3 linked regions of the Homo sapiens genome follow. The protein of the gene in region 1 purifies or fractionates together with the protein of each later gene. This does not show direct contact. Each region holds a gene or a part of one and is shown on either strand. Other genes may lie near its edges.

What was found.
Region 2: the proteins of METRNL (region 1) and NOTCH2 purify together in Homo sapiens (co-immunoprecipitation; one large-scale study listed by IntAct). This does not show direct contact.
Region 3: the proteins of METRNL (region 1) and C1QTNF9 purify together in Homo sapiens (co-immunoprecipitation; one large-scale study listed by IntAct). This does not show direct contact.

Annotation. Positions count from the first base shown.
Region 1 is NC_000017.11:83,086,011-83,089,661, forward strand, and holds part of METRNL (meteorin-like protein isoform 1 precursor), read left to right. Parts: intron 1-3,651. UniProt on the Homo sapiens protein: Hormone induced following exercise or cold exposure that promotes energy expenditure. Induced either in the skeletal muscle after exercise or in adipose tissue following cold exposure and is present in the circulation.
Region 2 is NC_000001.11:120,063,146-120,066,796, forward strand, and holds part of NOTCH2 (neurogenic locus notch homolog protein 2 isoform 1 preproprotein), read right to left. Parts: intron 1-3,651. UniProt on the Homo sapiens protein: Functions as a receptor for membrane-bound ligands Jagged-1 (JAG1), Jagged-2 (JAG2) and Delta-1 (DLL1) to regulate cell-fate determination.
Region 3 is NC_000013.11:24,312,553-24,316,203, forward strand, and holds part of C1QTNF9 (complement C1q and tumor necrosis factor-related protein 9A precursor), read left to right. Parts: intron 1-2,341; exon of another isoform or gene 2,342-2,425; intron 2,426-3,429; 5' UTR 3,430-3,451; coding exon 3,452-3,617; intron 3,618-3,651. UniProt on the Homo sapiens protein: Probable adipokine. Activates AMPK, AKT, and p44/42 MAPK signaling pathways.

The sequences.
Region 1 (3,651 bases):
GGTGTCACGTGGCGTCTCTGGACGCCTGTGCTTGGGGGAGAGGTCCTTCGTGGAGGGCTGTGTTGGTCTCTAGAAAATTCTGTGGGTAGACACCAGGAGGCATGAGGTCCTGGGAGGCACCTGTGGGCCGTGTGACCTCCATGGTCTGTGTGGCCTCGGACTCGGGTGTACAGACTTCTATCCTGAATGGGAATCCACATTTTTGTGTTCTATGTTCTTGGCCTAGATTACTTTTCATCTCTCTCTGAAATCTCTCCCAGGTAGACTGGTCATTTACAGAGTGAGTGTAGGACCGTCTGCCTGGAGTCCTGACTGCCCCGAGTCCCAGCTGGCCCATGAGCTCAGACTGCCCCTTGGGCCTCAGCACCCGCAGGGCTGGACGCTGATGTAAACTCAGCTGTGCTGTGGTTGGTTGCACGCTGGATAAAACTTTAACCACGGCGGCCTTTATCTTGGTCACCAACAGTTATGGTGGGTGGGAGACCTGGGGGAGGGGGTACCAGCCTTGCTCTGGGGGCCCTGGAGAAAAACTCACAATGAGGCGAAACCTGGAGAAATCCAAGCTCCAAGTTCAGTCTTTCTAACCGGAGGTAGAAGGTGCCGGGCCAGATGTTAGGAACTTGCAAACATTCTTTCTGCTGATTAAAGTGGTGATTGGTCTTGAAGACGTTGGGCTGCGGGTCACATGCTCTGTGGCCTGAGCTTTGTTCTGCTTCTGGGTGAGATTCTTAGAGAGGCTGTGGTGTAGTCCGTCCCTGCCACGCACACCTGGACGTCCACACTGGCACAGGCCCGATTTCTACATTTCCAGGGGAAATTCAATGGTTCTAGTTGTCAGCTGGGGCGACCCTTACGGAGCCTGTGCCCTCACCTTTGGGAACAGAGACTTTGTCTCTCCTGCCTCTGGGGGTGGGGTCCGAGGCCTACAGGCCCTGTGTAGGCTGGGGCGGTGGGTGGGTTTGGGAGAGGCATGGGATGGTAGGGGCTGAGCTGCCTTGGGGTCCTGTGGGGTTGCAGGGAGGCAGCGGCCTCTTGTGAGGAGTGACTTGAGCCCCAAGGGACCAGAGCAGGCATTCGGCGGTGGGTCCTCGCTCACCCTCCGTGTGCCTCCTGGGCCTGTGGGGTCCTGCGCAGGTCTGTGGCCCCAGTACACGTCAGGCTGGCTTGGGGTCCCAGAACTTTGCTGTGTCCTGTGAGGCAGGTGCTTGGGTTTCCTTGTTTACACTTGGTGACCCTGCGGCATCTGCTTAAACCGAGCCTGAGGTGATTTCCAGTGCCCTGTGGGTGGTGGGTTGCTTATCCGAGGAAGCAGACATGCAGGGATCCTCGGAACTGACAGGGGCCCAGACTCTGAGGTTCACCGGGGGCCCCCGGAGCTGGGACCCACGCCTGGCATCTCACGGGAACGGGCACAGATGCAGGCCCCTCCCTGGGCTGAGCACCTCCAGGGCCCTCACGAGAGGCCTCTCCTATCCTGATGGGGTGGAGGGGCAGGAGGGATCCGAGGAGGCTGATACCTCTCCTCTCCCCAGGGTATTCGCCTTTCATCAGGGGACGGGGGCCCCTAAGCCTTTAATGCTGCAGGAATGGGTACATAATGTGGAATGTCGGTGCCGGCCGTCTGGCAGCAGTGACGCCATCCCCTGGGCCAGGCCGGCTCCCCAGCACTCTCCGGCCAGCGCCGCGGTTTCCCTTGCCTCCCGTTCCTGCACTTGCTGTAGCTGCGAGAGCCGACGGAGGCTGAGCCGGGCAGCGCCAGCCCCGCCGAGCCTGAGGTGAGCCTGAGCCTTTGGCCTGGCAGCACGACCCACGGGAGGTGGACGAGCTCGTCTGTGTGTCAGAAGTTCCAGTTTGTGCTGACTCAGGAGGACAGAGGCTCCGTGGGCTGGAACCCCGGACAGGAGAGGGTGTGTGAGCCCCGTCCCCTGCCCAGCCAGGAGGAAATCCCCCGCTCCGGTGGGTTTCGTTGGTGTGATCGTGGTGCGTTCATGCTGCATAATCGGCTTCCTTGAGTAAACTGAGACACGCCGATGACCAAGAGTTGGCCGGAACACGGGGGCAGGCTGCTCCTCCAGGGGTACACACTGGGGGCCAGGCGGGAGGGGACCCGGCCCCAGGACCTTGGGATTTGGCTGACTACGGGCAGGACCTCTCAGCCCTGCACCAGCCGCCTCTGCAGGCGACACGGACGCCTTCCTTGGATGCTGAGGAAACCCCGCAGGATGGGGGTGGCAGAGAGTGGTCAGGTGCAGCTTCCGGCCGTGCCCAGACCTGTGCCCAGCAGACCTGGCTGAGGCCGTGTGGGGCTGCTGTTTGCAGGCCAGGGAATCCGGGAAACGGGCACCGTTCAGTGGCTTGGGGAATGTGGGTGGGGGCTGTCTGGTTCTGGGGTACACAGACCCGAGACAGTCCAGGCAGGTCCCAGGATTCCAGTCTGTTCTTCAGCTTCTCCCAGGGCTGTGTGTCAGATGCTCCTGGCTTGGCCACATCTGTGCTTGGGGTTTGGGGTGCAGGCTCTGTGTAAGGCCCCCCAATGCAGGCCCCAGTGAGCAGGTGCCCAGGGCCGGGCAGCAGCATCGTGGACACAGGCAGTGGGAGGGGAGGGGATGCTGCCTTGATGCTGATCATGAGCACGTGGTGCCGTCCCTGGCTCTCCAGGACGCCGGAGTCCTGCAGCGTCTCAGGGGCCTCAACGCCTCCCCCCTTTAAAATCCTGCCCCTGGCTGAGCCCGTAGGTGAATGACCAGCTCGGCGGGCGCAGAGCCCCTGCCGATGAGCCCCCTCCAGGAGCCTCAGAGTTTGGAGAAGTCCTTGATGGGTGGGAGGGATGGGTGGAAAAGTGTGGAAGATAATTCTCATTATTTCCTGGAAGTAGAGGAGAGGGGCTGATTTTTCCAAGGCGTCCCATCTCTCGTCCATCTTTGGCTTCCTGCTTGGTGCCTTCTCTCCGGCCACTGTAATTTTCATTTTAACCATCTCTGGGCTTGTGGAGAGGAAGGGTGTGGCCCCCGCCAGCTTCCTCACCAGGAAGAGGGAGGGAGAAAGGGAGGCAGGGGGAAGGGCAGGGGCTATGGGGCCAACACCCCCGGGGCACCCCAGCAATGGACTGCAGCCTGGAGTGCGGCCGCAGCGCGACGGTGATGATGGTGGCCTTGAGGGGAGCCTTGGGAGCTCAGCCTTGGGTCCTCGAGCCCACTGGAGCCCACCCTCCACCCCTACCCACTGCTCCCTGTTCTTGGCTCCTCTGAAAGCACCTTATCCCCGTCACCGGCTCCTCTAAAAGCAGCGTGTCCCCCCGCTACCCCGTCACCACCTGTGTGGGAGACCCAGTAATCGTGGCCACAGAGGTTTCCCGTCGGAACTGTGTGAGTCCCTCTGGCTGTCCTTACCTGGGCAGTCCTGCCGGACCGGTCGGTGTCTGTCATTCTCAGCCTCTCCTCGGAACCAGCCGGTCCTGCCTCTCTACTTAACACCTGCCGTGCAATCTAAGTCCCCGCAGCAGCGTCCCCAACCCCACCCTGCCGGTCCCTCCCACCCTGTTCATGCTAGCTCCTGAGAGACCTGCCTGAGATGTCCACACCCCAGCCCTCCCCCTCCGAGGAGGATGGACCAGGATTCCAACCCTTTGCCGACCCTCCCCACCGCCCTGGA
Region 2 (3,651 bases), on another chromosome or scaffold:
ATCCTGTGCCCCTTCTTGCAGATTGTTTTGTTCTGCTCAAGAAGCCCTAGATTCCTCCTTTATTTTCCTTTCCTTATTTCATTTGCTGCAGCAGCCCAGAAACCCCAAAAGCAGGACTGCCAGAAATGAGTGACCTTTATATCTCTCCACACTAACACATCTGAGGGAAACTGCCGACACCAAATATGTGTTCATGAGCTAATGAAGCAGAAATCCTCAAAGGAAGCACCATTTGCAACGGCTGAGGACAGAATTCTTTAGTGGACACCAAAAAGGCTGTGGAACTCCTATGCATTCTAACATCTCAGGTAACATTCTAATGGAGGAATAAGGAGGCTTACAACAAAGTCATACAACACAAACAGAAGTCTGAAAATGCTGGATTTCGCAAATTTCTTTTAAGACAAAACAACTTTACTAACCTTATACCATAGCAGCTTTCTTCTCTGTACTAAGTGAGGCCAGCAAGTAGGAGGCATTTCCAAGGGGGAAAAATGACCACAGGATCTAGCCAAAGCAACCTGTCTCTAATACTCTCAAAAAACAAACAAACAAAAACACTTTGATTTCCCAGATTCACTCTGCAGTGATTCTAAAACTTTCCTAATGTAAGAATCACCTGGCTATTTCTTGAACACACAAATTCCCAGATGACACTCCAGATGCACTGAATCAGAATCTCCATGAGAACACCTGAGCTATTCTTATCATAAGAGAGGTTAGGGAAACACTGCTTGATAAATGTTATTCTCCCACCAGTGCCCACCTGTGCAGGGAGGTATGAAACAAGTAGGGCTAAGATGCTTTACCTGAGCAATCACCTCAGACATGCTCCTCACTGGGTTTGACTCCTTTTATGGAGAGCTGGGTGTCAGCTCAGTAAAGTCTACAGACAAGCATCTCTTTGGGTCCCTATCACCTGCACAGGTCTCAGGACTCTGAGACAAATTTCTGAGTAGATGTCAATGAGGACAAGTCATGAGGAGACGGATTACAGCTGAATATAAGAAGATCTTTCTAAGAATTAGAGCTGGCCAAAGATGGAATAAACTGCTGTGGAGAGCTGTCTACCACAAGAGATGTTCAAGAAGAGAGAAAATATGGTACCTCTTGACTAGAATGTTGTAAACATCAGATCCAGCATGGGATGGACAGAAAGACTAGATGAATTTTAAAGTTCCCGCCAATGCATAAGTCAACAAAGAGGAAAATTTCAGCCACTCCTTAATTAATTAAAAGAGATAGCAAAAAAAGTCTGTGGGTGGGGTCAGCTTTCAACTGATCCTATCTCTTCAAAGGAAAAAAGAACATAGAAACACACTCCAACTCACCATCAGCCTCTCCTATAGAATGTTCTAAAGGTGGGAAAGCAGGAGTCATAGATGCTGTGACTAAGACCTGCTGCTCAGTTGACTCTGAATTTGGGGCACATGCCAGACAAGTTCTGTAGTACAGAGAAGAAATGTGTGTAGCACAGACCTGGCCCTCAAGGATCAAAATCATGTGGCAGAGACAACTCAACACCATGTGATTCTCTCAAATATTTATTCATCATATTTCATCTTTAGTTTTTGTCAGTAGGGTGTTCAGGGGACTCTCTTGGTTCAAAAAAAAAAAAAAGCAAATATACTTTACTAAATGTACATATTCTCTCAATCCAGTACAAGTTTGCAATATCCAACTCAATGAAAAAAATCTCAAAAAAAATTATCAAAATAAATATAAACTTAGTTAACTCTAATTTTAAAAATAGTATTCCAAAAATGACTAGTCCCCAAAATGATGAAATTACAATAAGGTGTGGCTATTCTGGACAAAATAACAGAAATTGCTGGCCTAGTAATACAGTAATACAGGAAGCAGTGGAAGCAAACTTGAGTGAGAGGCAGGGGGTGGATGGCAGTGCCTTTGAAGTGAGATTCCAAAGTCAAAGTGACCTTTATAAATTGCAGAAGTGATCAGAAAAAGAAAGAAAGAAACCCCACACACAAAGAAATTCAAAATTACAAGTTAAAATGAAACATCTGGGGAAGGGAAAAATTTGGTTTTTCCCCAAATGTAAGGTAAGCATGACTCCTGCAAATACTGTTTTTAAAATGTCTAGGAGTACCACAGTTGTCCAAAATAAGAAAATGGCTAAAAATAATTGTTCGACTGAACAAGTATTTATTGTGTGCCTATTAGATACCAAGGCATCATGCCAGGTACAGGGGTAGGGTATGGGCATTAGAATAAACACATAAATGAAAATACACGATTCCTTCCTCATGTACGCATTAACAATAAGCACTTGAGGATGTTATAAGAGTTTTTGTGCACATAAGCGCATTTGTACACGAGATGGAAGCAATGAGGACAGTGAATGAGGCACTGGACACCAGAAGAAAGGAATTCTAGTCTCAACTCTAATTGGCTCTGTGACCATGAACAATGAACATCAGAAAATGGAGGACGGAAACAGTGGCTCTCCTACAAGGTCACCAAACCAATTAATAACAGACCTGGAGAAGAATTCTGGTCTTCTGGCTCCTAGTTCAGTGATCTGTCCAAAATACTACACATACGGTAGGCTGACAAAGAAAGAAAAGAAGACCTTTTGGTTTCAAGTCATTTGCAGAGAAAGGGGGAGAAACAAAAACAGGAAAATCAGGAAAGGGTGGAAGGAAAATCAATAGTTCAAATTTAGGCATTCGAACTGAGACATCAAGAAAGGAAGCATGTAACTATGGACTGTGAACACAATATAAAGAAAATGATGTAAAATTTCTTATATCCTTATTCAAATCACGCCTTGCAGTTTTTTACTCTAAAATCATTGCAGACGTATATAGATAAAGGGTCAAAAAACAACATGTATGAATGACATTTAAGGAAAAAGAGATAACAGAAGAAAAGGGAAAAGGAGAGGTGGAGAATTTATTATATCATCTAAATATATGAAGCCCTTCTAAAGGGTCAATGCAGACATATTGCACCCAGATAAATAGAAGAAATGACATTATATTCTATATCTCTTACGTTAGCAATTTTTAAATTCCTTGAGTCAGAAGCGTTAAACACTGGAATGACTAAGGTTACATTTGTTATGGAAATTTCTTAAATTTAGAAAGACCTCATACACACACCTGAAGGTAAAAAAAAATGTACTTAATCAGTGGGTTGCAACCAAGTTACTTGTCAGAATCACCTGTAAACCTTGAAAAAATATGGATTCTCAAACTTACCTTATCAGAATCCCTGGGTGCTGAGTCCAAGATCCACCCCAACAGATTTTGATGTAGCCAGGACACAGAGTTTTTTCTACCATAATGGGAGAGGTAGGGAGGAGGATCACTAGGAATGGCAACACAGAGTGGGAACTAGATCAATGCAAATTTTGTGGGCAAAATAGAATTTCTGTGGGTGTGATATTTTTAAGATGTATTGTAAGGCTGCTCTGAACCATCCAAGCATATCCCACTGAATTTAAACATTCTCTAAAGGTCCTGAAGTCAGCAACTACAATCCAGGTGAACCAAAAGTTGCTCCTCTATGTCATAGAAGCCTACAGGAGAGGCAGTAGGGTGGGAATGGAGCAGAGAGATCCCAAGAAGTTATGGGTAAATATTTTTTAAATCTAAACATTCAGAAAAATAAGAGAGACTAGGAATC
Region 3 (3,651 bases), on another chromosome or scaffold:
AATAACATTAATATAATTTCTTCTATATTCCTTGTGCAAATCCTCAACCTTCTACATTAAAGAAGAGGCTAAATAGGAGGTATAAACTTGCTAAAATTTCTTATTAAAAAATAGTGCCAAGCGGCCGTGTGCAGTGACTCACACCTGTAATCCCAGCACTTTGGGAGGCCGAGGTGGGCGAATCACAAGGTCAGGAAATCGAGACCATCCTGGCTAACATGGTGAAACCCCGTCTCTACTAAAATACAAAAAATTACCCGGGCATGGTAGTGGGTGCCTGTAGTCCCAGCTACTCGGGAGGCTGAGGCAGGAGAATGGTGCGAACCCGGGAGGCAGAGCTTGCAGTGAGCCAAGATCGCGCCACTGCACTCCAGCCTGGGCGACAGAGCGAGACTCTATCTCAAAAAAAAAAAAAAAGAAAAAAAAAATAGTGCCAACCTAGGTGGTGACCACGTCTCTAATCCCAGCTATTCAGAAGGCTGAGGCAGGAGGACCACTTAAGCCTAGAAGTTCGAGTCCAGCCTGGGCAACATTCATGAGACTGTATCTCTATAAACAAACAAACAAACAAACAAATAAAACAGAAATAGTGGCACAACTTACTTTGCTACGTATTTGGGAGAACGCATATTAGTTAATCAAAATCATTTGCTGAAGGTTGTCTACATGCTGTATAAACAAGCTAGATAGACTCTACCTACATCAAATATGCAAAACTAGTGAAATAATTACAGAAGAGTAACCATTTGCTTCCAGGCTGGCTTCTTCTTCCCTGGAGAGCAAATTGGAGTTTATCCTAACCTGACACCTTTATGATCTTCTGATCATTTTATTCCTGGAATAGTTGTACTCCACATTTTGAAAAGTTAAAATGAAAATTATAGAACCCTCAACAAAGTTTGGTTGATGGAATTTCGATTTGACTGCTTCCGGCCACTTCTGAGTTTAGCAAAGGAGGCTCGTGTATATTCTTCATGGAATTTGGCTCCAAGAAAACTCAACTCAATTTCCTGGAATGGAGCGAATTTGTGACTTCGAAGGGAAGCATCTGCATTTCCTTTCCCAAAAATACTCCATTTGCATTAGACTGCTCCCTGTGACATTTCCACCAGATGGCAATACAGTCTTTGGATGACAGAGAGTCTTGCTGGTTTTCAAAATCTCTAGAAATATTTGTGTAGGCACTATAAAAAAGCATTTTTTATAAATGAAAAGCTCCCATAACTGCCCCCCATTCTAAAGCAACCATCTTTATTTGCATATATTCACTTTGAGTTTTTGTCAATATTCATACAGTCGTAAGTACATTTATAATGTGCATGGCATTTTAGTCTACTATCAAAATTCAGCACAATGTATATCATTTACATATTTCTACATGACCTTCATAATTATTGCAGCAGTTACATACTATTACACATAGTAAACCTTTCCCCTATTGTTACATAGTATGTAGTATGCACGTTTTCACCTGTTATAGATAATGCTGCAGGTAATGGCACACAATTGGCACACAGTTTTGGAACATTAGGAAGAATTTTAGGGATAGCAATACAGGGTGAAAGACATAGATGTCTTTTGCTCTTTAACTTTTCCAGAAAGATGTGCAGATTTACATGGCTATCAGCACTGTGAGAGGATCTGGGTTCTGACCAGTTGCACTATGCCCACGTTTTTGTTTTACTTCATTTTTTTAAATCCTAAAAGTCAGGTACAGGGTCTTTAGCCTGTAATACTAGCACTTTGGGAGACTGGCGGGAGGATTACTTGAGCTCAGGATTTCAAGACCAGCCTGGGCAACAGAGTGAGACCCAGTCTCTCCAAAGAAAAAAAAAAAAAGAAAGAAAGAAAAATAGGCAATGGCTCATGCCTGTAATCCCAGCACTTTGGGAGGCCAAGACAGGCAGATCACCTGAGGTCAAGAGTTTGAGACCAGCCTGGCCAGCATGGTGAAACCCCGTCTCTACTAAAAATACAAAAATTAGCTAGGCGTGGTGGTGGCGCCTGTAGTCCCAGCTACTTGAGAAGCCGAATTGCTTGAACCTGGGAGGCAGAGGCAGCAGTGAGCAGAGATCGGCCATTGCACTCCAGCTTGGGCCACAAGGGCGAAACTGCATCTCGAAAACAAAACAAAACAAAACCAAACCCAGGTGTGGTGGTGCATGCCTGTAGTCCCAGCTACTTGGGAGGTTGAAGCAAGAGAATCGCTTGAGCTGGGAGGTTGAGACTACAGTGAGCTGTGATTGCATGACTGTACTTCAGCCTGCGTGATGGAGCAAGACCTTGTCTCCAAAAATTATATATAAGGAAAGGACTTGAAAATGCATTTCTCCCGAACTAGGTGATGTTTCCGTGTGTGTGGCCCTTCTTCACAGTGGCCTCCTAGAAAAACAAGACCCTGACTCAAAGAACACCTCTCACTACAGTAAGACTTCTTGGAATGCTTTACTTTTTTAAAAATTTAATTTAATTGTTTAATGTGGTAAAAAATATATAACATAAAACGTAAAACTAACCAGCTTAACCATCTTAAGGGCACAATTCAGTGGCATTATGTACGTTCTCTTTGTTGTGCAACCATCACCACCACCCATCTCCAGAACTCTTTTAAAATCTTCCCAAACAGAAACTCTGTACCCATCAAACAACTCCCATTTCCTTCTCTCTTCACCTCTGGCAACCTCCATCCTACTTTTTCTTTATATGAGTTTGACGGCTCTAGGAACCTCTTATAGGTGAAATTATCCAGGTCTGTCTTTTTGTGACTAGCTGGTTTCACTTCGCATAATGTTCTCGAGGTCCATTCATGTTGTAACATGTGTCAGAATTTCTTCTCTTTCTAAGGCTGAAGAATATTCCATTGTATGGACCTACCACATTGCATGTATCTATTTATCCACTGAGGGACCCTTGGGTTGCTATGGAAAATAATGCAACTACGAACATGGACATCTGTTCCAGTCCTTGCTTTCAATTATTTTGTGTAGATGCACAGCAGTGGAATTGCTGGATCAGATGGTAATGCTATGTTTGCTTCACTACTTGGAATGTGCCTTTATGCATATCGTGATAAAATTTGATCTGTACGACAGTCCTGTGAGATAAGTAAGCATTGATCTCTGGTTCAGAAAAGTGATTTCTTCAAAGTGAAATGATGAACGGAAGAGTATCCTGACCTTAAACTTGGCTTTTTAAATTGCCCGTTCACCTTGAAGAGTGGTTCCAATCACAAGTGTTACCTTCCAAGGACAGTGTCATTCTGGTTATAATCAGCTTGCTCCCCTGCCCTGAGCCTTCTGTCCAAGTTTGTGCAGGTGTGGGTCTGGGGCAGGGGACAGCTCATCCATTTCCCACTGCACGGAACAGAGGCTGTGTCCAGGGCCCCAGCAACAAAGATTTCTCCTTTGGGTTTCTGTTTCCCTCTTTCAGTTCAGAGTCTGTCATCTGAACCATGAGGATCTGGTGGCTTCTGCTTGCCATTGAAATCTGCACAGGGAACATAAACTCACAGGACACCTGCAGGCAAGGGCACCCTGGAATCCCTGGGAACCCCGGTCACAATGGTCTGCCTGGAAGAGATGGACGAGACGGAGCGAAGGGTGACAAAGGCGATGCAGGTACTCACCTGACGGCTTCGGCTGCCTTTCAACT